2 separate regions of the Homo sapiens genome follow, and region 1 is linked to region 2. Evidence: fine-mapped expression QTL. A gene starts in region 2. The other region holds a variant in brackets. All regions are shown on one strand. Distances are from middle to middle.

What was found.
Region 1: its variant is fine-mapped to the expression of TEAD4 in lung (TOPMed, PIP above 0.99). The same link has a PIP of 0.9 or more in subcutaneous fat.

Annotation. Positions count from the first base shown.
Region 1 is chr12:3,005,699-3,021,772 of GRCh38, forward strand. TEAD4 (TEA domain transcription factor 4) reads left to right here. Exons shown (of 13, transcript NM_003213.4): 4 at 5,306-5,370; 5 at 6,472-6,534; 6 at 11,700-11,828; 7 at 12,847-12,890; 8 at 13,417-13,472; 9 at 14,936-15,075. Among named protein-coding and RNA genes, the nearest start is that of TEAD4, 54 kb to the left of the region's middle. RefSeq lists an enhancer at 7,938-8,779. The variant C/T (reference allele first, on the strand shown) is at 9,102.
Region 2 is chr12:2,952,046-2,968,119 of GRCh38, forward strand. TEAD4 (TEA domain transcription factor 4) reads left to right here and starts at 7,352. Exons shown (of 13, transcript NM_003213.4): 1 at 7,352-7,436; 2 at 7,903-7,995. LOC124902859 (a long non-coding RNA gene) reads right to left here and starts at 8,003. Exons shown (of 2, transcript XR_007063159.1): 1 at 7,696-8,003; 2 at 5,553-6,180. It also overlaps the pseudogene RNU6-1315P. RefSeq lists enhancers at 7,522-8,257, 11,888-12,713, 14,626-15,125.

The DNA.
Region 1 (16,074 bases), 54 kb after region 2:
TTGTGTTAGCCAAGATGGTCTCAATCTCCTGACCTCGTGATCCGCCTGCCTTGCCCACCCAAAGTGCTGGAATTATAGGCGTGAGCCACCGCACCCAGACTTATTTTTATTTTTTTGTAGAGATGGAGTGGGTTTCACTATGTTGCCCAGGCTGATCTTGAATTCCTGGGCTTGGGCGATCTTCCTGCCTCAGGCTCCCAAAGTGCTGGGGTTATAGGTGTGAGTCATGACGCCCAGTCAAGGAGGAATGTTTTTGGAGACCTATTGCCCAGCATGGTGACTGTAGCGAATAATAACGTATTGCATTTTTCATAAGTTGCTAAGAAAGTAAATTTCATGTTCTCATCATGAAAAATGATAAGTATTTGAAATGATGGGTATGTTAATTATTTGATTCAATCATTGCAGATTATATACGTATATCATAACATCACTTTGTACCCCATAAATACAGGTTGAGCATCCCAAATCTGAAAATTCAAAATCTGAAATACTCCAAAGTTCGAAACTTTTTGAGATGTGTGCCTCGAAGGAGATGCTCGTTGGACCGTTTTGGATTTCGGATTTTAGGATTAGGGATGCTCAGCTGGCAAGTATATAGTGCAGATAGCCCCCAAATTTGAAAAAAACCCCAAATCTGGAACACTTCTGGTTCCAAGCATTTTAGATAAGGGCTAGTCAACCAGTATGTACAGTTTAAAAAAAGAAAGAAAAGCCAGGCGTGGTGGTTCACACCTGTAATCCCAGCACTTTGGGAGGTTGAGGTGGGCAGATCACCTGAGGTTGGGAGTTCGAGACCAGCCTGACCAACATGGAGAAACCTTATCTCTACTAAAACTACAAAATTAGCTGGGCGTTGCCTGTAATCCCAACTACTTGGGAGGCTGAGGCAGGAGAATCACTTGAACCTGGGAGGCGGAGGTTGTGGTGAGCCAAGATCGCGCCATTTCACTCCAGCCTAGGCAACAGAGCGAAACTCCGTCTCAAAAAAGTGAAAAATAAAAATAATCAAAAATAAAGAAGAAAGAAAAAAAATACAAAGATGGGCCGGGTGTGGTGGCTGATGCCTGTAATCCCAGCACTTTTGGAGGCTGAGATGGGCAGATTACTTGAGGTCAGGAGTTCGAGACCAGCCTGGCCAACATGGTAAAACCTGTCTCTACTAAAAATAACAAAAATTAGCCAGGTGTGGTGGTGTGCGCCTGTAATCCCAGCTACTTGGGAGGCTGAGGTGGGAGAATCACTGGAACCCAGGAGGTGGAGGTTGCGGTAAGCCGAGATCACACCAGCTGCACTTCAGCCTGGGCGACAGCGAGACTCCCTCTCAAAACAAAACAAAAAAGAAGACGGCTGAGCTTGCCTTAGACCCCTTGGTGTGGCTCCTGTCCCGCCCCATTACTAGCCTCTCGCCGGGGGCTGAGACGGCCTTTCTAGCAGCAGAGCCCTGGAACCTTGTGGCAGAGGGTGAGGGTAGTTGTGGGGTGGTGGGCAGGGGCTCCTTGCAGAGGCTGAGTCCTCTGTGATGTTTGGGGTTAGGGTCTCAGCTGATGGGGGCCAAGGCCTCCCTACTGCTTCTCACCACAGGCTGCAGAGGAAGCAGCACTGTTACGGGGCAGTCCTGCCTGATGAGAGGAGGTTCCATTAACTAAGCATCCTCGCTTGGCCAGGCCTCGGGCCATATTCAAGCACCTGAGCCAAGAGTCACACCTGGGCAGTTAGTCCTAGGTCTGCTGTGGGTGATCTGGTGCAGTTCTCTGGCAAATAGGTATAATTACCTGCCCACTGCAGGGAGGAGGTGGATTTACTGTGAAGTTAATGAGGTTTACGCGTTAGGACCCAGCACTTACATGGGCCCCTTCCAAGTCCCTAAACTTAATTTTTGCTTCATTGAAGTATAACTGACATTACAACAAACTGTACATGCTTAAAGTGGCCAAGTTGATACATTTTGACAGATGTATGCACCTGTGAAGCCATCACCACCATCAAGATAATGAATGTGTCCATTGCCCCCAAGTTTTTAACCTAATTTTGTATTTTTAAAATTCTTTTTCCCAAAGGGAGCCTCCCAATTGCTAAATGTCTTAGGCCTCACAAAAGTCTGGGTTTGCTCATGTACAGAAAAGTTCAATGAGACCAGGATAGGACAGCGCCTTAAGAGTTACGTCGGACTAATCAGAAGTAAAAGGTTATTTGCATGTATTTAACTTACTCCTTTGTCTTAGAAGGCTAAAACAGTTACGGGACATCTGACCAGCATCTTAGCATTCATTCCCTCATCATTCAGGCAGCAAGTATTTATTGAGCGCCTACAATGTGCAGGCAGTTTTCTAGGTGGTGGGTATAAATAAGTGAATAAATAGACCAAAAATCCCTATTCGCATGGACTGTGGTTCTGACGGGGGTGAGGGCACAGACAGTACTGAAATAAGTTAGATTATGTATTATGCTAGAAGGTGCTGTGGAGGAAAGTAAAGGCAGTGGGTGCCAGGGTGGGCGGGTAGGAGTATGATTTCAGCCCTCAGTGGGGTGGTCAGGGAAGAGACAGTGGCACCCAAGGGGTGCAGGTGGTGTGGGACTCTGGGGCAGAGTGTTCCCTGGAGGAGAAACAGGAAGCACAAGGACCATAGTGGGGCAGGTGTGGGCCTGGTGTGTTTCAGGACAGCAAGAAGTTTAGGATGGATCGGGTAGACTAGATCAGAGAGGTGACTGAACTGGGGTGGCCAGATCCTGCAGGGGTTTCCAGGCCGTTGTAAGGACTTGGACACTGTTAATCTGGGGCAGATGGAAGCCATTGGAGGGCTTTTGAATTTCGATAGGGTCGCTGCAGCTGCTGTGTTGAGCATAGACTTGGAGCAGGGAATACAGGTGGAAGGTGATGATCCTAATCCAAGTCAGAGATGGCGGGAGCTTGGACCCTGGAGGGTGCGGTGGTGCACAGTGGCTGTATGAATTCTGGATATGTTTTGGAGGTAGAGCCACACCAGACTCATTCATTCATTCAGTGAGTAGGTGCCAGGTACTGGAGATGCAGACTTGAATGGAGGCATAGTCTCTTCCTCTGAGCTGTTGAGAGTCTAACAAGGAAAGACAGACATGGATAACTGATGAGCACACGATATCCTGTGTGCAAGGGACGGGCCAGAGGAGCAACCAAGAACCGTATCCCAGATGGTCTGCCATCCCCATCCCTCCTGCTACACCGTCACCCACTTCGCAGCTCTTGGGAACCTCTCTTCTTCCCTCATGCTTTTCCTTGCCCGTAGACTAGTCTCTGAGCTGGGTTACTTACTTGGGCCTAGAGCATGTTCATTTTACCGAAAAGGATACTGAGCCACAGAGTGTTCTCACTGAGCCAGCGTTGAGGTCTGTTTCCTACATCTGTAGAAATTTGGAAGAATCTGCGGGAAAAACCTTAAAGGAACTAGATTTAAGAAGAGACGGCTGGGCTGGGTGCAGTGGCTCACGCCTGTAATCCCAGCACTTTGGGAGGCTGATGCGGGTGGATCACTTGAGGTCAGGAGTTCGAGACCAGCCTGGCCAACATGGTGAAACTCTGCCTCTACTTAAAATACAAAAAAATTAGCTGGGCATGGTGGTACGCACCTGTAATCCCAGCTACTTGGGAGGCTGAGGCAGGAGAATCGCTTGAACCCGGGAGGCGGAGGTTGCAGTGAGCCGAGATCGTGCCATTGCACGCCAGCCTGGGGGACAAGAGCGAGACTTCGTCTAAAAAAAATAAAAAATAAAAATAAAGAAGAAGAGAAGGCTGAGTGAAAGTCCTTAAAGGGAAGAGACTTACCGTGCTCCCAAAGCTCATTGGTGGAGCTGCCAGGCTCTAGCCTGGCTCACCAGCTCCCAGGTCTGTGGCCCTACTTCATTCACCCACCGGTGATGACTTAGACCCGAGATGCTGCATGGGTGGCTTTAGTTAGACCTGGGGTAGAACTGTCGACCGTTCACTGGACCGCCAAAGCCTTTCCCTAGAAAGCTTTGAGAGGAGACATCTTGTGGACTCAGGGTTTCAGGTGCAGATCAGACCACAGACAGTGTCCCCAGACTCCGATTCTCCCCCCACTCCTTCCTCTGACACAGACGAGGCAGTGGTCCCAGGCCAGCACACCTTTTCTGGCAGACAGTACCTCTGGAGAGTAGCCTCGTAATTCGGCCTTGGCATTGGGGAAAGGTCAGCTGGGGGGTCAGCTTGGCCTTGGCCGTGCACTCTGGTTACAACCCAGGTGGCAGGCAGCCCACTCCCCTCACCTCCCCGGGCATCAGCAGCTGCCTCCCACGGACAGCCGCAAGCCCTCCCGGTTCCGCAGCACAGGGCGGGCTGGCACCTGCTCCCTCTGATCCCCCCACTCAAACCCTCTTGCTCTGCCTCTCCTCATCCGATGCTTCTCCGTATGGTTTAACACTAGCCAGGGGTGAAGGGCCACCCAAGGGCTTGCCTGACCACCCAGCCCGAACTGGCCCCCGGTCCTCTGAACACGTCCCTGTCCGTAGCACCCCTGGATTCCATTGTGTGGGCACATGCCGCTCCTGAACTAGGTAATGCTTTGAAATAAGGAACCCCTTTCCATCATCTTTTTCAATACTGGAAACCATGGATGCTCTGGGGTTTTCCAGGATGCTTCAGGCGTAGCAGCAGTCCCTCGGGGGCTGGGCCCATGGAGAGTGCTCAACCTTCCTTGTTGAGGGGTCTGAGTCAGCCATGGGGCTGCACATGTGCACTGACTGGCTTTTCTTTATGAGCGGACGGGCTCAGGCCTCCTCTCCAGGGACACTAAGTGTCTCCAGCAGTTGCACCCCCCATGCCCGCTGCTGCCTGCAGACAGGACAAGAAGTCTGGACGCTTCTACTCGTTTACAGAGGCGGAGGGCACGGTGGCAGTCACACAGGGCAAGGCCGAGGGCCGGGCAGCTCCCTGGAGCCTCCCAAGTGTGAAGAAGGCCCAGGAGAAAGTGTGGGGAGAGGAGAGGAGGCCGCCAGCGCTGGGTGAGGAACGGTACCGGGGGTCAAGGGAGGCTCTGGAAGTTCCTCAGGCTGTGCGTGGTTGGTGGCCACGGGCCCTGTTAACCTTGTTCTCGGGTTTCAGTCCCCACAGTGAGGCCTTGTCTTCCTCTCGCTGCTGGGAGATCCCTGTGATCCAGAGAGGGAACCCACAGAATCCTCACCCCACAAATCCGCTTAGGATGGGCAGAGAGTGAGGGCAGGGCTCCTCCGCAGAAGGTACCCCGCACCCCCTCACTGCTTCCAGCCTTTTGTCCTTCTCTCCACTGAGAGGCTGCTGGTGTCTCTGCAGGTCGGAACGAGCTGATTGCCCGCTACATCAAGCTCCGGACAGGGAAGACCCGCACCAGGAAGCAGGTGGGCCTCAAGAGACGGGTAGGGGTCCCGGGGGTGGTACCCCAGCACCAGTCTGCTCCCAAGGTGGGCCAGGCCCTCCCAGGACCAGACGCAGGCTTTTGAGGGGCGGCAGCTCTGGATGAGTTATCCCTGTTGGGCGTGTCACAGGTGGTCCAGTTTTCTTTTTCTTTCTTTTTTCTGAGACGGGGTTTCACTCATGTTGCCCAGACTGGAGTACAATGACGTGATCTCGGCTCACCGCAACCTTCTCCTCCTGGGTTCAAGTGATTCTCCTGCCTCAGCCTACCGAGTAGCTGGGGTTATAGTCACCCGCCACAATGCCCGGCTAATTTTTTGTATTTTTAGTAGAGACGGGGTTTCACCACATTGGCCAGGCTGGTCTCGAATTCCTGACCTCATGTAATCCACCCGCCTTGGCCTCCCAAAGTGGTAGGATTATAGGCGTGAGCCACCACCCCCGGCCGGGTGGTCCAGTTTTCTTGGGGTCCCTGCTGCCATCACTTAGGAGGAAACCCCTCGCCTCTCTGGAAAGTCATCAGCCCCCATCTCATCCTTCTCCAGGACACTAGGACAGACAGTAAAACATTGGCACTACTTTTCTTTTTTGTTGTTGTTGAGACAGAGTCCTGCTCTGTTGCCCAGGCTGGAGTGCAGTGGCGCAATCTCAACTCACTGCAACCTCCGCTTCCCAGGTTCAAGCGATTCTCCTACCTCAGCCTTCCGAGTAGCTGGAATTACAGGCATGCGCCACCACACCCAGCTAATTTTTGTATTTTTAGTAGAAATGGAGTTTCACTGTGTTGGCCAGGCTGGTCTCGAACTCCTGACCTCAAGTGATCCACCTGCCTTGGCCTCCCAAAGTGTTGGGATTACAGGTGTGAGCCACTGCTCCCTGCCGGCACTGCACTTTTGAAATACTGCCGGTTTCTGGATTAGCTGGGCAAGGCAGGACTGAGGGCCCACCAGTTGACCCTTTCATTCATTCATTCATTTGGTCCACAGATGTGGGTTGAGGGCTGTGGAGGGCGAGAGTCAGGAAGCCAGGCTGGGGAACACAGGTTGTTGGGAGGTAGAGACAGGAGTCCTCTCTCCCTGCCACAGGTCTCCAGCCACATCCAGGTGCTGGCTCGTCGCAAAGCTCGCGAGATCCAGGCCAAGCTAAAGGTAAGGAAACTGCAGTGGGGGTGCTGGAGTGGCCAGGAGTGGTGGCCAGCAGCATATCTTCCCTTTGGGGTCAGGGCATCACTGCTGGTGTGCAAGTCAGTGTGCTTTTCTCTCTGTTGAGGAGAGCCAGGTTGGGCCTGTAACCTCTCTCCCATCCGCACAAGAGGGCCAAGTGTGTGGATGCCTGGCTCCCCACACCCTGGGAGCTACAGGCCAGGCTCCTGCTGGGATCCCCCCTTGCTGGCTCCTGCTTAGAGGGGCTCACACGGCTCAGAGCAGCCGGATCACCCACCAGCCCTCATTTCTTGAGGGCCCCTCAGTGCCCTCGACCAGAGCATGCGGAGTGGCAGGGGCATGGGGGGGTGCCTGCTGTGGGGGTGGGGGTGGCGTTTATGGTACTGTGGGAGCTGGCAAATTCCTTCCTGCTTCCTGTCCTGTGGGACTGGGTGTTCCTTCCCTTCCCTGGGTCAGCCCCGTCTTGCAGGGCCTCTGCTGATAGGTGATGGCTCTGGGGGGCCTGATGTTGCTGGCATTCCCCTCGGGGTAGCCCTGCTCCCCACAGGAGTCAGGCCTCTGGGACCCTGGAACCAGGGGCCTTTGGGTGAACACTGGGAGGGAGTGAGCTCTCCATCAGGGAGGTGATGACGACAGAGGCTACACAGCAAGTTGGTGGGAAGATCTGACATTTGAGGCATTAAGTCTAGACCATTTATAAACATTTTTATTTATTTATTTTTAGAGACAGGATCTGTCTCTGTCACCCACGCTCAGTGCAGTGACGCAGTCATAGCTCACTGCAGCCTCGACCTCATAAGCTCCAATCACACTCCCACCTCAGCCTCCTGAGTATCTGGGACCACAGGCAAGTGCCACTGCACGGCCATTTTTTTCTATTTTTTTATAGAGATGAGGTCTCCCTATTTTGCCTGAGCGGGTCATAAACCCCTGGGCTCAAGAGATCTTCCTGCCTTGGCCTCTCAAAGTGCTGAAATTATAGGCATGAGCCACTGGGCCTGGCCTGCAAACATTTTTTTTTTTTTTTTTTTAGCAATGTAGCCCCTTTTCTTTTCTTCCCCCAACAAAATATCACCCTGATGTGTTATCAGAGGAGCCGTTCTGGTCAAAGCTAGGTTGGCAAAGCTCCTCTCCTCCCGCGCATCCTTTCCCACCCCATGGAACTTGAACTCTAGGGGACCTCAGAATCCAGTTTAAAAGCTACTGGGAGGCCAGGCGCGGTGGCTCACGCCTGTAAGCACTTTGGGAGGCCGAGTTGGGCGGATCACTTGAGGTCAGGAGTTCAAGACCAGCCTGGCCAACATGGTGAAACCCTGTCTCTACTAAAAATATAAAAATTAGCCAGGTGTGGTGGCACACAGCTGTAATCCCAGCTACTCGGGAGGCTGAGGCAGGAGAATCACTTGAACCTGGGAAGTGGAGGTTGCAGTGAGCCAAGATAGTGCCACTGCACACCAGTCTGGGCAACAGAGTGAGACTCCATCTCAAAAAAAGCCACTGGGCTAGCTGGGCATGCACGCCTGTAATCCCAGGTACTTGGAGGTTGAGGCCAGGAGTTGGAGGCTGCGGTGGGCTGTGATTGCACCTGTGACTGGCCACTTCAGCCTGGGCAACATTGTGAGACCCCATCTCTGAAAATATTTTTTATATTAAAGAAAAGCCACTGAATTAGATGACCTTGAAAGTCCCTTCTGGCCCTGGCAGTTCATGATCCTGACACTGGAATCTCAGAACGAGTGGGTGGGAACCACAGACCTTTCTGCCTCCTAGGAAGCCACACCCCACTGCCCACTCAGTTCCATTCCTCCTGCCATCAGCCCAGCTGTTCCCCAAGCCCCACAGCTGTGGCCTGGCACCTCGCTCCTTTTTCCCTGGGACAGCTGACCAGCCCTCAGCTGTTGCTCCCGCCTCTCAGCCTCAGCTTCCACAGCCATGGAACCCAGCCCTGCTCCCTGTTTCCCCTCTTTCGTCTGCCTCTGACTCACCGGGACCCTGCAGATGACCACGGTGAACAGACTTCCCACTACTGGGTTTAGGGCAATCCCTTGGGGGCCGGCTGTGTGGCCCACATTTGCTTCAGGGAATTGTACTTGTCCTTGTCCACAGGTTCTGACCTGGGGCCCAAGGACAGCCTTCAGTGGATGGCTGGACAGACACCAAGGGGAGCCATAAACTCCTTAAAATATGCAAATTTTCATGTATATGTGAGTTGCCTTGGAGAGATTGCTGTGAGGATTTTGTCATATTCTCAAAGGATCTAGAACCCAAAGTGATTAAGCTCTGGGTTGGACAGTGATCCAATAGAAATCCCTGAGTGAGAGGCTGGGTCCTAGGCCTGGCTCTGCCCCGTGGCCGTGAGTGCTTGGGCAGAGTCACTGGGACCTCCTGGAGCTCCAGTTTCCTCATCTGTAAAGTGACAGGCGAGCAAGGTGACATCCAAGTTCCCCTCCCGGCCCCGGTTAGTGGCTCCCTGGCTCCATTGCCCGGCTACTGCTGTCACTCCCCATCGGGTCCTTCCCACTTCCTCTGACCCCTGCCCCACCCTGCCCAGG[C/T]CGCGGTTTCCTGAGCCCCAGCCGTTTGTTTAGATCGAGTATCCAGGAAGGCAGGCACTGAGTAGATGCAGCCCCGGCCTCGTGATGGAGTTGTTAAGTGCCGAGGTCTTCGGGCTCGCAAGGGTGCGCCTGCCAAGTCCCTCATGCCCTCCTGCGGGGAGAGGTCAGGGGCTGGCCTGGGCACTTTCCTCCTGAAAATTCCAAGTGTCCTGGGAGGAGACACACACTTAGACTTACTAGTTAGCTCCCTCTTTGGTTATCAGAGACAGCCTCTGAGAGCAAAGCCCAAGTTTGGCCCCAAAAGGACAGTGGGGAGGGGGCCAAGGGGGGCCAGGGACAAACCTCATCTATTTCACTGCTTTGTCCACATCGACAATGACCCACTACTCGGAACAGTTCCCTACTCCCCACCGCCCTCTATGGTGCGTCTCCCCCGACCCCTTGGTTTGCATGGCCCCCCGTGTGCCAGTCTGGTCCAAGCTCACCTGGTCACCATCACCACTCTCAGCACCCTAGTCACCCAAATTCTCAGAGCCTCAGTTTCTTCATCTTAATGATCCTACAAGTCCTGTCAGTCTCACAGGACTCAGTGAGGTTGTGTTCTTGAAAACCTTCCGTGGGCTGCCTCATGCCACATGGGTGAAATGGTCACCTTGAGAGGATGAGTGGAAGGGCCTGCTGTGTTCTGGCTTCACACCTGCACGGCACCAGGATGGCGGGGGAGCACTGAGCCTCTCTGAGCCTCCCTGAGCCTCCAGGCCGCGGTGCTGCCCACCTCATGGAGCTGCGTGTGGACCGCGTGGAGGCATCCCTCGGAAGAGCTGGCGAGCTGCAGGGCTCACCGTTGCTTCTCAACTTCTGTTTTTAGTTTGTGTTTTAGAGACTCCACTCTGTCACCCAGGCTGGAGTGCAGTAGTGCTGTCACAGCTCACTGCAGCCTCGACCTCCTGGGCTGAGGCCATCCTCCTGCCTCAGCCTCCCAAGTAGTTGGGAGGTTCTCAACCTTTGTATCACTTAAGGGAGATCCAGGTCTACCAAGTTAATTATTATTAGTTATTCAATAATGGTTTTATCTTTGTCATTAAAAAAAAATTCATGGGTGGGGGCGGTGGCTCATGCCTATAATCCAGCACTGGGAGGTCGAGGCAGGAGGATCACATGAAGCCAGGCGTTTGAGGCCAGCCTGGGCTAATGAGATGCTGTCTGAAAAAATAATAATCATCATAAAGATATTTATTTATTTATTTAGACAGATTCTTGCTCCGTTGCCCAGGCTGGAGTGTAGTGGTGCAATCTCAGCTCACTGCAGCCCCTGCTTCCCAGGTTTAAGCAATCCTCCCACCTCAGCTCCTTGAGTAGCTTGGCCTGCAGGCACACACCACCACACCTGGCTAATTTTTGTATTTTTTGTAGAGCCAGGGTTTCACCAAGTTGCCCAGGCTGGCCTAGAACTCCTGGGCTCAAGCGATCTACCAACCTCAGCCTCTCCAGGAGCTGGGATTACAGGCATGAACCACCACTTCCGGCCAGGTATCAAATTTCTAATCAGAGCCCCTGAGTTGACTCAGTCGAGCCATTTAGCCCCGATAAAGCTGCAGACAGTGAATAATACTTGCTGTTCCAGCCCGTGTGTGTGTGGTCTTATTTTGGATAATCCCTGCTGGGTACAGTAACGCATGCCCGTGGTCCCAGCTACTCAGGAGGCTGAGATGGGTGGATCATTTGAGCCCAGGAGTTTGAGGCTGTAGTGAGCCATGATTGTGCAGTACTCTAGCCTGTGCGACAGAGTGAGACCCTGTCTCTGGAAAAAAAAAAAAAAAGAAGAAGAAAAAGACACAGTTTCCATTAGGCTTCTTGAAATAGGGAATGTTGTGTCATTGGTTTTGAAGACCTTTGGAATTCGGGCACTCAGGATGGAAACCACTGGCTTATATGAATATAACAAACGATTACTATTGTTACCCGTGCCATCCAAGTGGCTTTCCCTGTGTGCTTATTTGTTCCGGGCCTATTCAGGGTGAACCCATCCTCTGGGGTCTTGGAACCTTTGGAGGGCAGACAGTGGGTATTTACACTCTGACACATGAAAGATGGGTGAGTCCCAGGTGCCTACAGTGCCCAGGGAGATCCTTAGGGCAGGACTGAGGCAGGAGGGGCCACAGGAGGTGGTCTCTTGCCTCCAGACAGCCCGTGTGGCCAGGGATGATGCTTCCTGTGCACTCGAGGAGGGATCCAGCAGATATTCATGCATCGTTTTCACAAGACAGGTGCTGAGCTAGGCACCTGTGGTAGAGAGGTGAGCAAGGCATAGAAGGTGGCCCCGTAATTAATAAAATGACAGATAATGTCTCTGTAAGCTCTGATGAAAGAAGCAGGGCAAGTATCATGCCCCTTTGACAGATGAGAAAACTGACCAGAGAAACCAGCTGACTTTCTCAGTTGCAAAACAAGTTAATAGCACGGCACAGACTTAACGCCTGGTCCCCCAGCTCTGGCCACTGGCAGCGAGACAGCTTCCCTGACCCGAGGGCCGGACCTGCCTGGCCTCAGCCTGACTAGTGACCCTGCTGAGGTCCTCCCTTGCAATGTCTCCCCCAGGACCAGGCAGCTAAGGACAAGGCCCTGCAGAGCATGGCTGCCATGTCGTCTGCACAGATCATCTCCGCCACGGCCTTCCACAGTAGCATGGCCCTCGCCCGGGGCCCCGGCCGCCCAGCAGTCTCAGGGGTAAGTGGGCTGCCGAGAGCTGGAGGCCAGGCCAGCCCTCTCCTCCTCCCTCCTCCCTGTTCAGAAGAGCCAGAAGCATTGGCCAGCCCAGATTTCTCTCACCTGAGTCCTCTTGGCCAGGGCAGTCAGGGAAGGAGGGAACAAGGACCCAAGGGCCACACACATCCCGGCTTGGCTGGTATTGGGACGGCTTTCTTGGGGTCCTCGGCAATGACTCCACAGACTTCACAAGGGGGAAGGGGGAGCTTCCAGGAGCTGACCACCTGGTAGCTCTGCCATGTTGGCCTAATTTACAGATGAGGAAGCTGAAGCCAAGGGGGCTGAGCGGAAGCCTGAGACCAGCATGTACCTGGGCAGCTCGTGCCACGCAGCCTCATTCCTGCCCTCCTGCCAGGTGGAGAGCTGGTGCCCCAAAAACAAACCCCTGGTCAGATTTTAACTTTCCCAGCCATGACCATGTTGGCCACACTCTCAGAATGATCCAGAAAGGCCCCTTTTCAGAGCTGTCTCCTCACAGGGGCTTTCTTGGCTCCAGGGACTAAATGAGTCTTCAAGGCACCTGCAGCACCGCCCTAGGCACGTGGGGAAGGGGCAGTGCCAGGCCACAGCATTTTTCAAAGTGCGTCCCAGAGAGCACTAGTCCATCTGCATGTTAAACAGATAGGACACAGTGGTTCTGTGAGTAAGTTTGGGACCCTTGGCATTAAGTGGGTTCTTGGCACTGGGACTTTTCTGAGCCTTAGGTCTGCACTGTGACTCTGCAGGAGTTGCCCTGTGCTGTGTGGACCACACCTGGGTGCTTTTCCCATGGAGCCCCTCCTCCACAGGGCCTGAGAGCCCCCTGAAACTCACTCTGGGGGTGCTGCTGTGGCCTGTTAGCATTCACTAGCTAGGCGAGGCCTCGGGCTCCAGCCTCTCCTCCCAGTGGAGGCCCTGCCCGGTCCTACCCCCACCCCCACACCACAGGGCCCCGGGTGCACCTGGGGCCGTGCTGATTCCATGCCTTTTGCCTCCTCAGTTTTGGCAAGGAGCTTTGCCAGGCCAAGCCGGAACGTCCCATGAGTGAGTATGGCCTCTGGTTTCTCTTGCCAGTTGCTCCCTGAACTGAACTTGAACCCATAAACTCATGGCATTAAGCCTGGGCCCCAGGGTGTGCTGGGGCCGCTGCTGGGGTCGGCCTTTCAGGATGGCTCTGAGCTCAGGGATTGGGCTCTTCTACTGTCAGCCATCACTGGGCTCATCTGTGATGTCTACACCCTAGGGTGGTATTTGCCAAAACTCCAGTCTGTCCAGGGTATAGGCAGGGCCAGAGCTGGGGTCCCCCAGGGGAGGAGGCTGGGAAGCAGACCTCTGGCTGGCCTGGGAGGAGGAGAGGGAGGGGTGGATTTCTTCAGCAGACACGCTGTGTCTGTGGACCCGCCACGAAACCCAGGGGAGTCGGCAGGGGCGGGAGTAGGAGGCCAAGGCCCATCGGGACCACTGAAATCCAGACCACCAGGACCTACCACACAGACCACTGGACCCAGTGCAGGGATCCGGGGCGGTGGCCTGCCCGAGGCTGACACCTCCCCTCCTCTCTCTCCCGCAGTGTGAAGCCTTTCTCTCAGCAAACCTATGCTGTCCAGCCTCCGCTGCCTCTGCCAGGTGGGTGGGCGCTGCGTGGCCCCCTTTCTATCGCAGCCATGTGGCTCCTGCCTCTGGGTCCAGGCCCCCGGCAGCCGAACGCCTGCGTGTCCCTGTTAGATGCTGCCCCGTCATGCACACTGACCACACGTCCTAGTCCCTGGCCACACCCCATTCCTTTCCCCCAGCATGCACACCTCAGCCGTGTGCCAAGCCCCTTCATGCCCCTCGGGTTGCCTTGCTCCTGTCCCCTCAAAGCTGTGCTCAGGGCTTGTGGGGCACGTGCAGTTCCAAGGGCAGTGCCCGTGCCCTGGCGGCTGCCCCACTTGGCCGGCCTTGTTACTGCAGTGTGCCTCACACACCTGGTCCTGGGAGGGCCGAGGGGTGTCTAGCTCACCAGCCTGGAGCCCCTCCCGAGAAGAGGGACCCTTGTGGGAGAAGACCTGGTGGAGGCAGCCAGCGGTGCTGACAGGAGCCCCCACCCCGCCCTCTCACTGACAGGCTCTGCTCTGTCCTCGTCTCTTTCTCAGGAGGGGCCCTCACCACCTCCCACTCTGTAGGACAAGACCAGCTCCTCACTCTTAAACTGCCCTTTCTGGTGTGGAGTCTGCCTGCCCGGCCCCTTGGCTTTCCCTGCCACCAAGAGCAGCCCTGCTGCCTTCTGTCCCCCAGGTCCTGAAGGCTGCTTTCTCTCGTTCACACATCAAAACAAAGTCACAGCGTCAGGTCCCGTCCACCCTCTGTCTCATGCCAGTCTTCTGTCCACACTGACCATGTCTTCACTCCAGGCCTGCTGGCTTTTGCCTGCGTTCCTGCAGCAGCCTCTCCACCGGCTCGCTGTCCCGTCTCACCTCCTCTCGTCACCCTGTCACTCACCAGAGCTTCAGTCTCACGGTGTTGCTTCCAGGTTTATGGTGCCTTCCTGGCCCCCTGGTGCCTTCAGGACACGATCTAAACTACAGTAGGACTGGAGTAGGTTCATCTGTTAGCAACGCTGGATTGAGGGGCTCTTCTGGGCCAGGCCCTGTTCTGGGAGCGGGGGAGACACATGTGATGCAAACAGGAAACGTCCCCGTCTCTCCGGGATGATGCCATATTGTAATAGTGGATTCATCTGGTTATTTCCCCGACTGGAACAGAAGTTGCTTGAGGGCAGGAACTTAACAGTGCCTGTTCTGGAAGCCTCTCGGTCCTGCAGGGCCCCAGCTGCCCTCCAGAATCCAGTCTTGCTCGGCGGTTCCATGCAGAGTGCTGAGTGGCCCGAGTTGTACCAGGCGAGCCCCTCCCCACCAGGGCAGCTCCAGGATGCCCTGGCCCAAGCCTGGCACTCCCTCCACCACCTCTGCTAGGAGGTCCATTTAGGGAGACAGGCGGTCCCCCCAGGCAGCACGGGTCTGTCCGAGGAGGCCTGGGGTCCTTGCAGAGGGTGCGGGCAGGGCGGGTGTCCGTGACCAGGTTCCATGTGCCTTTCTCACTTTGTGCAGGGTTTGAGTCTCCTGCAGGGCCCGCCCCATCGCCCTCTGCGCCCCCGGCACCCCCATGGCAGGGCCGCAGCGTGGCCAGCTCCAAGCTCTGGATGTTGGAGTTCTCTGCCTTCCTGGAGCAGCAGCAGGACCCGGACACGGTAGGTCCTGGCCTCTGCCTGTCCAGCTCCCTGGTCACCCCCTCTCCCTCTGTTTCTGCTTCCGGCAGTCTTGCCCCACTCCATGCTGGGGCTTAATTCAAGTTCCCTGTTCCTTTCCGATCTTCCCTTCTGCCCTTCCCCCCACTCCTCCTTTCCTCCTTCACGTCACCCCTCTTCCCTCTTTCCCTCCTCCCTGGCTTCCTTTCCGTGTCCCAGCGCCCAGTCAGCGTCACGCTCCTCCCTCCCTGTCCTGTGTTCCTCCTCCCCTCCTAACCCAACCGACCCTTAGTCCAAGGTTGCTCTGGTCCCAGCCCCACCCCTACACTGTCCCAGCCTCTCTCTGGTTCTGAGAAGCGGGCAGGAAGCTGAGGAGTCTCCTGTGTCTGCTCCATATCCTATGGGATACCAGCCTGTCCCCTTCGGTGTCCAGTGTCCTGGGTGACCAGCGTCACCTGCAAAGGTCAGAGGGGGACCTGGAGGAGGCCAAGGTGACAGGATGCCAGGGCCCTTCTCACTCTGACATCTTCAAACTTCTTTTTTTTTTTTTTTTTCTTGAGACAGAGCCTCACTCTGTCACCCAGGCTGGGAGTGCAGTGGCATGATCTCAGCTTACTGCAACTTCCACTTCCTGAGTTCAAGCGACTCTCCCGCCTTAGCCTCCGGAGTAGCTGGGATTACAGGTGCCTGCCACCACACCTGGCTAATTTTTGTATTTTTAGTAGAGACTGGGTTTCACCATGTTGTCCAGGCTGGTCTTGAACTCCTGACCTCAAGTGATCCACCCACTTCGGCCTCCCAAAGTGCTGGGATTACCGGTGTGAGCCGCCGCACCCGGCTCAGACTTCTTTTTAGCTGAGGAACCCATGAACCAAATAGACCTTTACTTAGAAGTCCAGGATGTAAAACAAAAGGAGTAGACTTTTACCATCTCTATTTTACTCATGGGGAAACTATGGCCCAGAAAGGCCAAGCGGCTTGCACCAGGTCACGTGGTGGGCA
Region 2 (16,074 bases):
GCCACTGTACTGCAGCCTGGGAGACAGAGCTCTCGCTCAAAGAAACAAAACAGGCTGGACGCGGTGGCTTACGCCTGGAATCCCAGCACTTTGGGAGGCCGAGACGGGCAGATCACAAGGTCAGGAGATCGAGACCATCCTGGCTAACATGGTGAAACCCGTCTGTACTAAAAATACAAAAAATTAGCTGGGTGTGGTGGCGGGCGCCTGTAATCCCAGCTACTTGGGAGGCTGAGGCAGGAGAATCGCTTGAACCCGGAAGGTGGAGGTTGTAGTCAGCCAAGATCGCGCCACTGCACTCCAGCCTGGGTGACAGAGCGAGACTCCGTCTCAAAAAAAAAAAAAGAAAAAAAAAGAAACAAAACAAAAAACAGGAAATGGTCTGTTTTGTCCTTCAAAGCACAAAATGAAGTTCAGCTGATGTCAAGTGAACATTCTCTTAAGGAAAAAAGTAAATAAAAGTATAGGATGGGCCGGGTGCAGTGGCTCACACCTGTAATCCTAGGACTTTGGGAGGCCAAGGTGGGCGGATCACTTGAGGCCAGGAGTTCAAGACCAGCCTGGCCAAGATGGCAAAACCCCATCTCTACTAAAAAAAAAAAAAACATAAATAAATAAATAAATATAGGATGGAGAGGTTAAAAAAGAAAAAGCACCTGAGTCACAGCTGACCAGCAGGAGTCATTGCATAATACTTTCCAAGGTATGGGGAGCAGCTTTGGGGAAATCTCCAAAGCAAGATGTGGCCCGGCACAGTGGCTCACACCAGTAATCCCAACACTTAGGAGGTCCAAGGCAGGAAGATGGCTTGAGGCCAGGAGTTTGAGACCAGCTTGAGCATATAGGGCAATCTTGTCTTTACAAAGAAAAATTTTTTTAATTAGTCAAGTGAAGTGGTGCACACCTGTAGTCTCAGCTACTTGGGAGGCTAGGGTGGGAGAATCACTTGAGCCCAGGGAGTGAAGACTGCCGTGAGCCCTGATTGCACCACTGCACTGCAGCCTGGGCAACAGAGCGAGACACTGTCTCAAAAATAAAAAAAAAAAGAAAAATATTTGCCTTTCACCTAAAAGCTAGGAAACAATCTCTCTTTACTCTGTCAGTTTCCTATTAGGCCATTCAATCCAGCTGTCAGTTGTTTGTTTGGTGGGAATGGTTTGATTTACTGGGGAAAAAAGTTTCTAGAGTTGTAAACTGGCAGTCAGCAATAGTTGAAACAAATATGTAGGATAATGAGTGGATCGATAAGAAGTCTAGAAGACTTACATGGTGGCGTTTACTCAGAACCTATTCATTGAGTTCTTCTAATCCTATATAATCTCTTTGCTACCACCACCAGCTTTATTGAGGTATAGTTAACAAATAAAAATTGTATATATTTATGGTGTACAATGTGCATTTTTTTTTTTTGAGACGAAGTCTCGCTCTGTCGCCCAGGCTGGAGGGCAGTGGCACAATCTCGGCTCACTCTGCCTCCTGGGTTCCATGGTTGGCCACGCTAGTCTCGAACTCCTGACCTCAGATGATCTGCCCACCTTGGCCTCCCAAAGTGCTAGGATTACAGACTTGAGCCACCGTGCCTGGCCACATTTTTTTTTTTTGAGACGGAGCCTTGCTCTGTCGCCAGGGCTGTAGTGCAGTGGTGTGATCTCGGCTCACTGCAACCTCCGCCTCCCAGGTTCAAGCGATTCTCCTGCCTCAGCCTTCCAAGTACCTGGGAATACAGGTGCGTGCCACCACGCCCAGCTAATTTTTGTATTTTTAGTAGAGACGGGGTTTCACCATGTTGGCCAGGATGGTCTTGATCTCTTACCTCGTCATCCGCCTGCCTCAGCCTCCCAAAGTGCTAGGATTACAGGCGTGTGCCACCACGCCCAGCCTTTTTTTTTTTTTTTTGAGATGGAGTCTCACTCTGTTGCCCAGGCCGGACTGCAGTGGTGCCATCTCGGCTCACTGCAAGCTCCGCCTCCCGGGTTCACACCATTCTCCTGTCTCAGCCTCCCGAGTAGCTGGGACCACAGGCGCCTGCCACCACGCCCGGCTAATTTTTTGTATTTTTAGTAGAGACGGGGTTTCACCGTGTTAGCCAGGATAGTCTCGATCTCCTGACCTCGTGATCCGCCCGCCTTGGCCTCCCAAAGTACTGGGATTACAGGCGTGAGCCACCGCGCCTGGCCTTTTTTTTTTTTTTTTTTTTTTAATGGAAGACTTCACGAATTTGTGAGCTCGGGGCCATGCTAATCTTCTCTGTATCAGTATCCAATTTTAGTATATGTGCTGCCCAGGCAAGCACCACAATGTGATATTTTCATATGTGTAAAGGGTTTTGTTTTTTAAAGATGTGGAGAAATTAGGGAAGGGTTAGATATATAGTTCTAGTCACATTTGTCCCTGATTATAAACTACAAGTTTGTTACAGAAAATAAAGAATAGGAGGCCGGGCGCTGTGGCTCACGCCTGTAATCCCAGCACTTTGGGAGGCCGAGGCGGGTGGATCACGAGGTCAGGAGATTGAGACCATCCTGGCTAACAAGATGAAACCCCGTCTCTACTAAAAAATACAAAAAATCAGCCCGGCGTTGTGGCGGGCGCCTGTAGTCCCAGCTACTCAGGAGGCTGAGGCAGGAGAATGGCGTGAACCCAGTAGGCAGAGCTTGCAGTGAGCCGAGATGGCGTCACTGCACTCCAGCCGGGGCAGCAGAGCGAGACTCCGTCTCAAAAAAAAAAGAAAAGAAAAGAAAGAATAGGGCTGGGTGCAGTGGTGCATGCCTGTAATCCCAGCTACTGGGGAGGCTGAGGCAGGAGAATTGCTTGAACCTGGGAGGCGCACGTTGCAGTGAGCCAAGATTGTGCCATTGCACTCCAGCCTGGGCGACGAAAGCAAAATTCTGTCTTAAAAAAAAAAAAAAAAAGAATAAAAACAAGAAACTAGATCCCCTTAATTTGCAAACTTTCAGAAATAATCCCTTTAAAATACTTTTTCAACTTTTTTCAAAAACAGGGTCATCTGATATATAGTTTTTATTTATTTATTTATTTTATTTTATTTTTTGGAGACGGAGTTTCGCTCTTGCTGCCCAGGCTAGAGTGCAATGGCGCAATCTCTGCTCACCGCAACCTCTGCCTCCAGCGTTCAAGCAATTCTCCTGTCTCAGCCTCCTGAGTAGCTGGGATTACAGGCATGCGCCACCACGCCCGGCTAATTTTCTATTTTTAGTAGAGACGGGGTTTCTCCACGTTGGTCAGGCTGGTCTCGAACTCTCAACCTCAGGTGATCCGCCCGCCTCAGCCTCCCAAAGTGCTGGGATTACAGGTGTCAGCCACCACGCCCAGCTATTTATTTATTTTTTGAAATGGAGTTTCACTCTTGCTGCCCAGGCTGGAGTGCAACGGTGCGATTTAGGCTCACTGCCACCTCCACCTCCTGTGTTCAAGTGATTCTCCTGCCTCAGCCTCCCAAGTTGCTGGGACTAAAGGCGCGTGCCATCGCGCCTGGCTAATTTTTTGTATTTTTAGTAGAGATGGGGTTTCACCATGTTGGCAAGGCTGGTCTCGAACTCCTGACCTCAGGTGATCCGCCTGTCTCAGCCTCCCAAAGTGCTGGAATTACAGGTGTGAGCCACCATGCCCAGCCCCTATATATAATTTTTAGAATCTGCTTTTCCACTTATATCATGAATGTGTCTGGTTTATTTTATATTATTTTATTTATTTTTTCTGAGACAACGTCTTGCTCTGTCGCCCAGGCTGGAATGCAGTGGCGAGGTCACGACTCACTGCAGCCTTGACCTCCCGAGCTCAAACAAGCCTCCCACTTCAGCCTCCCAAGTAGCTGGGACCAGAGGTGTGTGCTACTATGCCCAGCTAATTTTTATTTATTTATTTATTTGGTAGAGGTAAGGTCTCATTATATTGCTCAGGCTGGTCTCAAACTCCTGGGCTGAAGAGATCCTCCAACCTCGGCCTCCCAAAGTACTGGGATTACTGATGTGAGCCACTGTGCCCAATTAATTGATTTTTAACTTTGACTTTGGAATATAGCCAACACAAATACCCCTACATGAAACCACCCAGCCCTGCCCACACCCTTACTCTCCTCCTCCTGCACAGTCCATCATCAAGCTTGAGTGAGGATCCATTTGTAGGATCCAGACAGCTGAAATATTTCCACCAAAAGACTCATTCCTGAGGGTCAGTGAATTAGGGTCCTGTCCCTTAAGAAATGTAAACATCCCTGGGAAGGGCTGATGTGTGGGTAAAATCACCTTGCCTTTAACTCTTCAGAATTTGTACATCTGTTAACTTTCCTTTACCTAGACATTCCTCAACAGCTCCAAGCCTGAGGTCCCCAAAGCTCCAGAGCTCTCCAGGAGACTATAAGGGTATGGGCCAGAAAGTCAAGATCCTGAAGACACACCTTCCCAGCTTGGATCACTGATGGTCTTGGATAGTTAAGACTTAGAGGGAATAAAGATCTCCAAGTTCGTTGTCAGCAGTCTACCCTAACCGTGACACTAGGGTTGCTTTCCTGTTTCTACTCTGGACTCTGTCCTGCTTTCCTCTCCGTCCCCTGAACCTGGCTGGATTCCCCTCCGACCTCACCCCACTCCCCTTTTGCTTGAATTTCTTTCTTTCTTTTTTTTTTTTTTGAGACGGAGTTTCATTCTTTTTGCCCAGGCTGCAGTGCAATGTCGTGATCTCAGCTCACTGCAACCTCCACCTCCTGGGTTCAAGTGATTCTCCTGCCTCAGCCTCCCGAGTAGCTGGGATTACAGGCATGCACCACCACGCCCAGCTAATATTGTATTTTTAGTAGAGATGGGGTTTCTCCATGTTGGTCAGGCTGGTCTGGAACTCCTGACCTCGTGATCCACCCACCTCAGCCTCCCAAAGTGCTGGGATTACAGGTATGAGCCACTGTGCCCAGCCCTGAATTCTTATCTCACTTACTGACACCAACCATTGTTCAGCTGTTAAAGGTTAGCGATTTTTGTTTTCTCTCTCACTACACAGCCAAATGATCTGAACCGTTTCCTAGCTCCTTCCCCTCCTCCTCAACCTCAGGACCACTGCTTGAGTTTTAGGGCACCCCGAGTCTCCAGTTCAACTGCAAGACTGTTGCAAGACGGTCTTCTTGATGGTGCTGCTGATTAAGTCACACTTGTGTCTTTTTTGATGCCTAACTCTTCAGCATGGCACGCAATGACCTTCAAAGTCTGGTATCCACTTCCTTCAATCTTATTATCCACATCTCTATTCTCCAGCCACACCAGTTTACATAGCTTCGCTAAACACACCAGCAGACTGGCTGCCTCACCTTTGTAGGTGCTATTCCATGTGTCTTAAATGGGGTTTCCAGTCTCAGTTTGGCAAACCCTCATTTATCCTCAAGAGCTAGATCAAATGCACTGTAATTGGATTTCACTGTTCCTTCCCTTGGGTTCCCATTGAACTTTGCATAATTGTCTGTCTTCTCACCTAGACTGGAACTACTTGAGGAAAGGGACCTACTCCTTCCCTTAGTGCGGTGTCAAAGTCAACAAACACTCCAATGATTGCTGAATTAATATAATTATTATTAATTACTTTGAGACAGGGTTTCGCTCTGTCATCCAGGCTGGTGTGTAGTGGTGCATTCACGGCTCACTGCAGCCTCAACTTTCTGGGGTCAAACTATCCTCCCACCTCAGCCTCCTGAGTAGCTGGGACTACAGGTGCAGGCCACCATGATGCCCAGGCTGATCTCGAACTCCTGGGCTCAAGCGATCCACCTGCCTCGGCCTCCCAAATTGCTAAGATGACAGGCGTGAGCCACCGGGCCCCCCATGATTGCTGAATTAAATAGTTGGTGCTTAGTGTGTACTTCACGTGGCGCTGATATGCTGCCTTGCGTTTTGGTCTTTTCATGTGCATGAGGTGTGACCAAGCCTTGATATGATTCATTATTTAACAAGAATACCACAATTCATCTATTCAAATGAGGGCTGCGTCTTCAACGCCTTCACCTTGCAGGACTGGATGCTTAGCTCAGTCATTGCTTGAAACACTTTTGGAATACCTCTCTTGGAAACAACTTTGGCATCGATAGCACTTTCCTTTCAATATCTTCCACGGTAGCAATTGTTTTTCATTTATGCAGCATTTATCATGCACTTCCCTATCCCAGGCACCAGGCTGGATCTGTGTGAAAGATAAGATAAATCAGACATTACTCTGTCTTCAAGGAAGTTTCTGTTTGGCAAGGGAGATAAGATCTAGACAACCACCCAACACAAGGCTAAGTGATAATGCCCCAGAAAAGGTTGGATTTGATTTTTGGAAAAAGCCAAAAGTCCTTTGGTTTCAGTCTCCTGGCCAGGTAGATGATGGCGCTACCTGCCAGCACACTGCTTTAAGCCCGTTTGTCCTAAGCGTCTCCAAACAAGGAGCCCAGCGTGTTTCCAGCACCTCCTGCCCCAATAAGAGACTCCTGGGCATGTGTGTCTGAAGTCCAGACTCTCACCGATGGCAGTATACACCGAGGCCTCCCCAGCTAAACTCTGAGCTCTTTGAGGGCAGGTGCTGACGGCTGATCCTGATCTTCACAGTATCTGGACTCATCACACATCTTAGATGAATATTCATTGAGTCACTGAGCCCAGAAGGCGTCCCATGGCATGCCACATGGACTTCAAACCGAGTGCCCTTTCTCCCATGTGGTTTACTCGTAGTGGCGGTTTTACAGATGCCCAAGGGGCAGGAGAGAAAAACGGAAAGAGCTAAAGCCGGGGAGGGCAAGCGAGGGGGCACTGGCAGCGGATCTGGGAATGGAGCCCGCGAGTTCCTGCTTCCTGGTTCCCCGGAGCAAGTGTCCTTTGGTGGGAGCCGCAGGAAGGGAGCAGCCCTTCCTGCGCGCCGGGAGCCCGCCCCTTCCCCGGCCTCCCAGGGACTCGTGCGGAGGGACGCCGGGTGGCGGGGCGGGAGTCTGGGCCCCGTCCACCCCCCCGCCCCCGGGACAGCCCCACCCCGGCGAAGAGGAAGGCTCTCGGCTCCTGGGAAAGGGAGTCGGGACCCCGCCAGGAGGGGAGGGCGCGGGGCGCGCAACGAGCAGCCAAACAGTCGGAGCGGAGAGATCGAAGGGCTAGTGGGCGTGGGGGCCGCAGCCGAGGCCCGGGTGGAGGGGTCCCCGCCGTCCCTCGGCCCCCTCCCCCGCCGCCCGCCCCGGCCCGGCCCGGCCCCGCCCCGCCCCGGCGGCCCGGCCCCTCGCCCGCCCGCGCGCGGCGCAGTCTCCTCCCCGAGGTGCCGGTGGCCCCGCCGCCACTCCCTCCGGCTCCCTCCCTCCCGCCGCGGCGCGCATCTCATTCCAGCCCTCATTCCGCGCATTCCAGCGTCCTCCTCGCACACTCGAGGCCAGGGGGCGGGAGGGCCGCAGCTCCGGCGCCGCCGCGTCCCGCCAGGTGAGAGGCGCCCGCGCCCGCCGCACCCGCCGGCGCCCTCACGGGCCGCGCGCCCCACGCCGCCGCAGCCGACCGCTCGCGCCGCGTGCTCGGCTGCTCTTTTCTTTCCGCCGCCCGCGTTCCCGCCTTGGACCTCTGCGCTCCGACGCGCTCCGTCCCGACCTCTGGCTTCCCTCCGCGCTCCGGCGCTGCTCGCTGCCCCTCTCCCGCTTCCCTCCTGTCCGCCCCGCGCTCCCCTCCTCGCTCCCGGTTGACTCACTCCTCCAGGAATAGGGATCCCCGTGTTTTCCCGTCAGTCCCATTCTGGGAAAACTCCTCCCTCCGCGCGCTCCGCTCCGCTCCGCTGGGCGCACCGGGGCCGGTCGGCGCGGGGTGGGCTTGGCCCCGCGGCCCCGCCTTCACTGCGCCGCCCGTCGGCCCCGGCCGGAGCCCGGCTCTGCGCGCTGACGCCCTGTCGTCCCCGCAGAACGATCGCCGCGGCCGGAAGAGTTGGCGCTCGGGGCGGACTCCTTGGAACTGGCTTAGCGCACCCATCCCACCTTCCCGCACCCTGGGACCGGTAAGGCTGGGGCGCGGGGACTTGGTAGGACTTTGCCGGAGGGCAGGAGTCTGCGCGGTGCGTGCGGAGCTCCCTCCCGGGACGAGACTGGGAAGAGCGAGGCACGTGGAGGCGGCGCGACTGAGGCTGCTGGAGGCGAAGCGGCTCCAGGGGCGGGTAAGGGGGGTGGACACTCGGGACTTTGGGGGAAAGGGAGGCCGGTGTGGAAAGGACCGGAGAGGCAGAACCGAGAGCATCGGCAACAGAAGAGACCCAGCACCCATGCCTCTTTTCTGCTGGGCCCTTTTCGAGCCTGGAAGGGAGAGACCTGGAGGTAAGCGGACTGCCTGTTTTAAGTGCAAAGGCGATGCGAAAGTCGGGGGACCCCTGCAAAAGGTCCTACACCTCAGGGCTTGGGAAGCTGCTGTGTTTCCTGATGGGGACTAGTGGATCGATCCAGGGAGCAGAACTTTCAAACCCCAAAGTGAACATTTCCCCCGTTGTGCTGAGGCACTTGAGGCCCCGCGGACTGACTGCGTCTGTGCTGAGTCTGTGTGACACCTGACTGCGAGTCCCCCTCGCTTTGAGTCTCTGTGTGGGTGATGTCTGTTCACGTGTGGCTCACCTTGGCTTCCAGTGGGCGTATTTGTTTGTGTTGAACGTGAGTGACAGAGTGTGTGTATATGTCTGCGTGAGAAGGGGCTGTCTGAAAGTGAGTATCTCTGAGTAGGTGTGTGATGCCACGTCTCTTGAGTATGTGTTTCTCTTCGAGGATGTTGGTTCTGGCTAGGACTGTTCTTCCTCCCTACATAGCCGTGGGCAAGAGTCAGTGTCTCTGGTTGCCTGAGTGCAGGGATAATTTGACTGTGGTTTTGGAGTGTGTGGCCTCCAGGCTCCGTTTCCCCTGGACCGGGCAGAGCTGGAAGGAAGCTGGCTCCACCTGCCTCTTGGAGCCAGGAGGCTGACTTTCTCAGGGCGAGGGTCTTGTGCTTGCCTGGAATAGGTCAAAAAGCTGGTAGGAGGCTGAAGGAAGTTGAGATCTTTGCCTTTGGGGGATGGGATGGGCGGGTGAGATTTGGGAAGGTTTGTCGGGGTGGATCCCCGGGAAAAGGAGACAGTTTTGAATCTGGAGACTTGTGTAAATAGTGCTTTTAAGTTGCCCTCAAGGACAAACAGGGAGGTATACCAGCCTGAACTACTTTTCCTGGTTTAACTCTCCTCGGAGCTGACCAGGTAACCCAGTAGAAGAATCCCTCATTCTTTCCAACTTGCCAGACACTCAGCACTTCCTTTGAGAAGAGGAATGAGTAGCTTGTTGCATGAGGGCTTCAACGTGGATATCATGTGTAGGGCTTCTTGGAAGGAAGGAGCCAGAAACTGTCTCGGGGGTTGGGGGTTCTCGTCCTTGCTCCTCCATCCATCCTGAGGATGTGGATGTTCTTGTGGGAAACACCTCACCCTCTCACCTCTTCGGCCTGGTGTGCGACTGGTCTAAAAGCAGCACTGATGGAGTGGAAAGGGCACAGGTTTGGGGTCAGGCAGACCAGGGTACAAATCCTGAGTCTCTCACTACCTTTAAGGCTCTCAGGCTGTTTCCTGGTGGGTAATACGAGCGGAGCTTTTCTGTCCAGAAAGTTTCTTGTGAAAAGTCGATGTCTGCAGAGCCCCCACCCAGCAGCACAGTGCCTGGCACATCCCATGGACTCCATAGGATAGCTGTTGTATCCAGTGTTTCCTTCGCTTATTTCAGTAAGAACCCCTTTTTCCTAGGGATTAGTGTTTTTTGAATTAGTGTTTCTCTGAGCACCATTTGAGAAACCTTGCCCTGTCTATCATGTTTATTTAGCAAACATGAATCGAGCATTTACTGTGAGCCAGGCCCTACGCTGTGTTCCGCGTCCTTAGGAATCCAGGGTCCTAGTGGCCCAGGTCAGGAGGGAGGGGGACAGACAGGGCTTTGTCACCAGAGAACAGAGTGCCAGCTTCTATTTTCTGATTCCAGTTTTGCCTTGGCCCCAGGGTGAGCTTGCTGAACATTATTAGATACCCTAATGTCAGCATCTAAGTCCCCCATTTTATTTTATTTTACTTTATTTTTATTTTATTTTATTTTATTTATTTTTGAGACGGAGTCTCGCTCTGTCGCCTAGGCAGTAGTACAGTGGCATGATCTTGGCTCACTGCAACCTCCGCCTCCTGGGTTCAAGCGATTCTCCTGCCTCAGCCTCCCGGCCGGCTAGTTTCATATATATATATTTATATATATTTATTTATATATATAAATATAAATATATAAATATATATATAAATATAAATATATATATATATTTTTTGAGATGGAGTTTCGCTCTTGTTGCCTAGGCTGGAGTGCGATGGTGCGATCTCGGCTCACCACAACCTCTGCCTCCCGGGTTCAAGCGATTCTCCTGCCTCAGCCTCCCAAGTAGCTAGAATTATAGGCGTGCGCCACCGTGCCCCACTAATTTTGTATTTTTAGTGGAGACGGAGTTTCTCCATGTTGGTCAGGCTGGTCTCCAACTCCCAACCTCAGGTGATCTGCCCACCTTGGCCTCCTAAAGTGCTGAGATTATAGGCATGAGCCACCACTCCCAGCCGTTTTTTGTATTTTTAGTAGAGGCGGGATTTCGCCATGTTTGCCATGCTGGTCTTGAACTCCTGACCTCAGGTGATCCGCCTCGGCCTCCCAAAGTGCTGGGATTACAGGCGTGAGCCACTGCGCCTGGCCTAAGTCTCCCATTTTAAAGATGGGGAAACTGATGCTCCTAGAGGGACAGTAACTTGCTTAATGCCGCAACCCTGGTGAGTGGCAGAGCAGGGATTAGAACCTATGCTCTCCCCTTGGCGTTCTGTCTCCTGCCCTGTGGATTGCAGTGCTTGTACACCCCCTACTCCCCCTAGCCGCCTTCATCCAACAGGCGCGGAAGCTGGAGCAGACTGACTTGGGCCATGCCTTGTCGCTCAGATAAGGTTGGTAGGAGGCAGAAATACTCTGCTCCGACCTGGCAGAAAGCACATAGCTGTTCTGGGGAAGGAGCCATCTCACTGTAGAATCTGTGGAGTCGGGAAGGGGCCCTCGGGTCTTTAAAACACACCCTCCTCTCCCCTTGATGAGCCGGCAGGTGAAGGTTCTCCCTATCTTTTTAGATCTCCTGGGTTGCAAATGTCACAACCTCCTTTGATTTCCACTCTGGAGTCTTGCCCCGGTGACTGTCACAAAGCAATGCCTGTTGCCAAACCTGTGGCTCCTCCTTCTCCTTCCCAGTGGAAGTGGAGGACGTTGGTCCCCAGCTTTGGACCTTGCCTTTCCTGCAGTTGAGGTCAGTCCAGTGGCAGTTGGAAATTCAGGGCTTGTGAGGGTGGCTTTACCTTGCCTGTCTTCCTTTGCCCCCATGACCCTTTGTTGGCCGGGGTTGGACGACAGCTCCCTTTAAAGCTCTGAAATTGGAGCTGAACAGCTGCTGTCCAGTAAAGGGGGGTGAGGGGGCTGTCAGCAGCCAGGAGGGCCCAGGTGGAGGTGGGGGCAGGGCTTTGTCACTGGGGAGAACACGGTCTCCAGCTCCTATCTTCTAATTCCACTTTTGCCTGGACGCTTTCTGAGATGACGGTTCTTCCCTTGCTTTTGGTTTTTCCCGCTACTATCTGGGAGATTCTAATCACACCTGTGTGATCTGGCCCTGGGGCCCTTAGCTGGTGGGGACTGGATATTTGGGAAAATTTCCACTAGAACTCAGGTCTCCAAGATCTATGCCCACGTCCTCCTGCATTTAATACAGGGGGGCTCCTGGAAGGGCCAGAGGATGGGCCAGGCTCCCTGTAGCGGGGGCTGGCTCCTTGGCTTGGTGTGGGCAGGCGGGCCCCCATGGGTGGGGACTCTGCTTCCTTTGACCCAAACTTCATGGGAACAATAGACTTCAGAGGAGTCACCAGGGGCAGGAAATGGGAACTGTGCAGAGCCAGGGGTGACCCTCCTGGGGGATGGGATTGCATATCCGGTAGAGGGTTGGGGGCAGTGCAGAGGGCGCTGGGGAGGGGCTGATGACACATAGGGTGGGCCTCTGGGGTGGGGCCCTCCTCCAAAGGGGGCCGTTGACTCAGTGTGAAGCTAGAGCTCCGTGCCGGTTCTGTGCTGAGCTTTCGGCTCTTACTAGCACAGGGCTCGTGTTTGCCAGCCTCCGCTCGTGCCACGCTCGCCCCTGCCAGGACTTGGTCTTCCCCTTCCCCTCAAGCCCCTGAGATGTCTTTGCGAATCATCCTGGCTGGGATAAAAGGCTGGTGTTGTTGCTCCCTGGCTGGTCTCCACCTTGGCTGTGAGCCTTGGGCAGTTGTGGCTGGAACGGCGATCTTGGGTTGTGGGCAAAGCTCTGGACAGGGAGTCCCCAGGCTGGGGTCGCTGGACAACGTGAGGGATTTCTTTCTTTCTTTTTTTTTTTTTTTGAGACGGAGTTTTGCTTTTGTTGCCCAGGCTGGAGTGCAGTGCTGCAATCTTGGCACACCACAACGTCTGCCTCCTGGATTCAAGCGATTCTCCTGCCTCAGCCTCCTGAGTAGCTGGGATTACAGGTGCCTGCCACCACACCTGGCTAATTTTTTTTTTTTTTTTTTTGTATTTTTAACAGAGACAGGGTATTTCCATGTTGGCCAGGCTGGTCTCGAACTCCCAACCTCAGGTGATCCACCCGCCTCGGCCTCCCAGAGTGCTGGGATTACAGGCGTGAACCACCGTGCGCCTGGCCATGGGGGATTTCTTTAGCCGCAGGCAGAGCGAGACAGTGGGTGGAACGTTCTGGAGGCGGAGGACTCTTGTCTTGCCTCCATCTTTGTAAGGGTCGACCAGACTTTGTGAGGAGGCCACAGCTTACCCTGAGAGAATTGTGAGTCAGGCCACACAAGCTGCTTTGCCTGAGTTCAGGTTGCCGGATTCTCACAGATAGGCTTTGGGGTCCCAAGAGAAGGTGTAGGAGTGACCCCAGAACCACTGCCAGGACCTGGAAGGAGGGTAGGAGTAGGAGAGACAACACATGCTGTCTTGATTTGTTTCTTCAAGGAAGCAAGATGGGGACCCTGGAAATGGCAGACTCCTAGAATTGATTCCTTGCCCAATTCTTGGTTAGATTTTGTTTTTTAATGATTTTTTATTTTTTGAGACAGAGACTCACTTTGTCACCCGGGCTGGAGTTCAGTGGTGCAATCATGGCTCACTCCTTGAACTCCTGGGCTCAAGCAATCCTCATTGCCTTAACCTGAGTAGCTGGGACTACAGGTATACGCCACCACACCTGGCTAATTTGTAAAGTTTTTTTGTGGAGGTAGGGTCTCGCTTTGTTGTCCAGGCAGAACTCAAACTCCTGGGCTCAAGCAATCCTCCTACCTTGGCCTCCCAAAGTGCTAGAACTGCAGATGTGAGCCATCATACCCTGCCAATTTAAAATTTTCTAGTAGCCACCTTAAAAAAAAAAAGTGAAGTTAATGTTGGTGTTTTCTTAAACCCTAGTGTTATCAAAAATAATTTCAGTGTAATAATTTTTTTTTGAGACGGAGTCTCGCTCTTTCGCCCAGGCTGGAGGGCAGTGGGGTGATCTTGGCTCACTGCAAGCTCCGCCTCCCGGGTTCACTCCATTCTCCTGCCTCAGCCTCCCCAGTAGCTGGGACTACAGGCACCCGCCACCTAATTTTTTTGTATTTTTTAGTAGAGACGGGGTTTCACCATGTTAGCCAGGATGGTCTTGATCTCTCTACCTTGTGATCCACCCATCTCGGCCTCCCAAAGTGCTGGGATTACAGGCGTGAGCCACCGCGCCCGGCCATAAATTTTTTTAAATTATCATTATTATTATTATCGTAGACAGTGTCTTGCTCTGTCACCCAGGATGGAGTGCAGTGATGCGGTCATGGCTTATGCAGCCTTGACCTCCCAGGATCAAGCAATCCTCCCACCTCAGCCTCCTCAGTAGCTGGGACTGCAGGTGTACACGGTTGCACTCAGCCTAGGTTAGATTTTTGAACAAAAATATGTGGAGAGTGTGAAAATGAAGTGAGATACCTAGTAGCCAACCTGGGTTCACTCTACCAAGTCTTGGAGAAAACAACTCTAACTTGGGTGGAGGAATGTTCAGTAAGCCTTTTCAGTCTAATGATCTTCTTGGTACAAGAGAAAGCAGTGTGGTCTGGCTGATACAGCAGGGAGATGGATGTGTGACTGCTTGACCCACTACGCTGGATGCTGACTCCTAACTCCTGAGCTTGTGTTACTGTGAAGAGGTCCCCGTGATGTGCCGCAGGGCTGTCTTTGGCTTAGTCCTCTATGTTTTCCATAGATACGAGCCTCTCCCAGGAGCCTGTGTGGCCTGTGTCTTCTGTTTCTCATTTCTTTTTCTTTCTTTTTTTTTTTTTGAGATGGGTCTTGCTCTGTCACCAGGCTGGAGTGCAGTGGCGTGATCTTGGCTCACTGCAACCTCTGCCTCCTGGGTTCAAGCAATTCTCATGCCTCAGCCTCCCAAGTAGCTGGGATTACAAGCACACGCCACCATGCCCAGCTAATTTTTTTGTATTTTTAGTAGAAACAGGGTTTCACCATATTGGTCAGACTGGTTTCGAACTCCTGACCTTGTGATCTGCCCGCCTTGACCTCCCAGAGTGTTGGTATTACAGGTGTGAGCCACCATGCCCGGCGTATTTCTTTTTTTTGAGATGGAGTCTCGCCCTATTGCCTAGGCCGGAGTACAGTGGTGCGATCTCGGCTCACTGCAACCTCCGCCTCCTGGGTTCAAGCGATTCTCCTGCCTCAGCTTCCTGAGTAGCTGGGATTACAGGCACCTGCCACCACGCCTGGCTAATTTTTGTATTTTTAGTAGAAATGTGGTTTCACCATGCTGGCCAGGCTGGTCTTGAACTCCCGACCTCAGGCGATCCACCTGCCTTGGCCTCCCAAAGTGCTGGGATTACAGGAGTGAACCACCGCACCTGACCCTGTTTCTCGTTTTTATGGGCGTTGAGGGTAGCAAACATTGGCTGATAGAACCAGGGTTCAAAATCATCTCAGTTGACTGGAATGCTGCCATTAAGTAGAAAGATGAAGTTTAAAAATATTTCTCTCTTAAAATTAATATATGTACATTGTAGGAACCCTGGAAAATAAAGAAAGGCATAAAGGAAAAAAATGATACATAATACTATAATTCGGGTGGGCTGGTATTTCGGTGAATGTCCTTCCAAATTTGTGTTCATGCAAATCTATATATTTTAACATAATTGCAATTATACTCTATCCCGTTTTTTTCCCTACTGAATGCTATCTAATGGGTAATAGTGCATGTCATAAAAAATACTTAAAACCATAATTTTAAGGATCCAAGTAACATTGCATTCTATGACTATACTATATTTAACTATGCCCTACTGACTTTAAAACATTGTTTTTAGTTTTTAGCTTTTAAAAATTACTTGACATTGAGCAATGTTGAACATATACTTATCTCAAGAAGAAATGTAATAGGTCTAAGTGTAACATCCTGCATTTAAGTTCAAAGCATCAATTATGTAAGTCTAGAATAGAGTGGGACTTACTCTTCATTCATGTTGAGGGAAAAGGCTTGGGGTTTTGGGCTGAAAAACGAAGGAAGAGGGAAATGAACATTTTAATGCCTGTTAGGTGCTAGACCATTATTCTAGACATTTCTGCCTTCATCATCTCATTTCATCCTCTCAGCCCTGTGAGAAAGGTTTGGTTTGTTTTTGTTTTGTTTTTCAACCTCTACTTTACAGAGGGGACACTGTAGAAGTTATACTGCAGTTGGAGTTTGGACCCAGGTCAATCTGACTCTCAAACTGCCCCATTAAACCATAAGCCTGTGTGGGCCAGTGCTGTGGTAAGGTCTGTGTCAAGGGAAACCTTTACTCACTAAGCTCTGTGACCCTCTGGCCACATTGGAAGCCACATCTGGTTTTGGAAAGTTTATATATCCTGAGCTGTTAAGTATTGAGCTCGCCATTTTTGTGGGTCTTCCTCTACCCCCAACCAGTGATCTGATCTCAAACATGTGGGTCTTTTTTTTTTTTTTTTTTTTGAGACGGAGTTTCGCT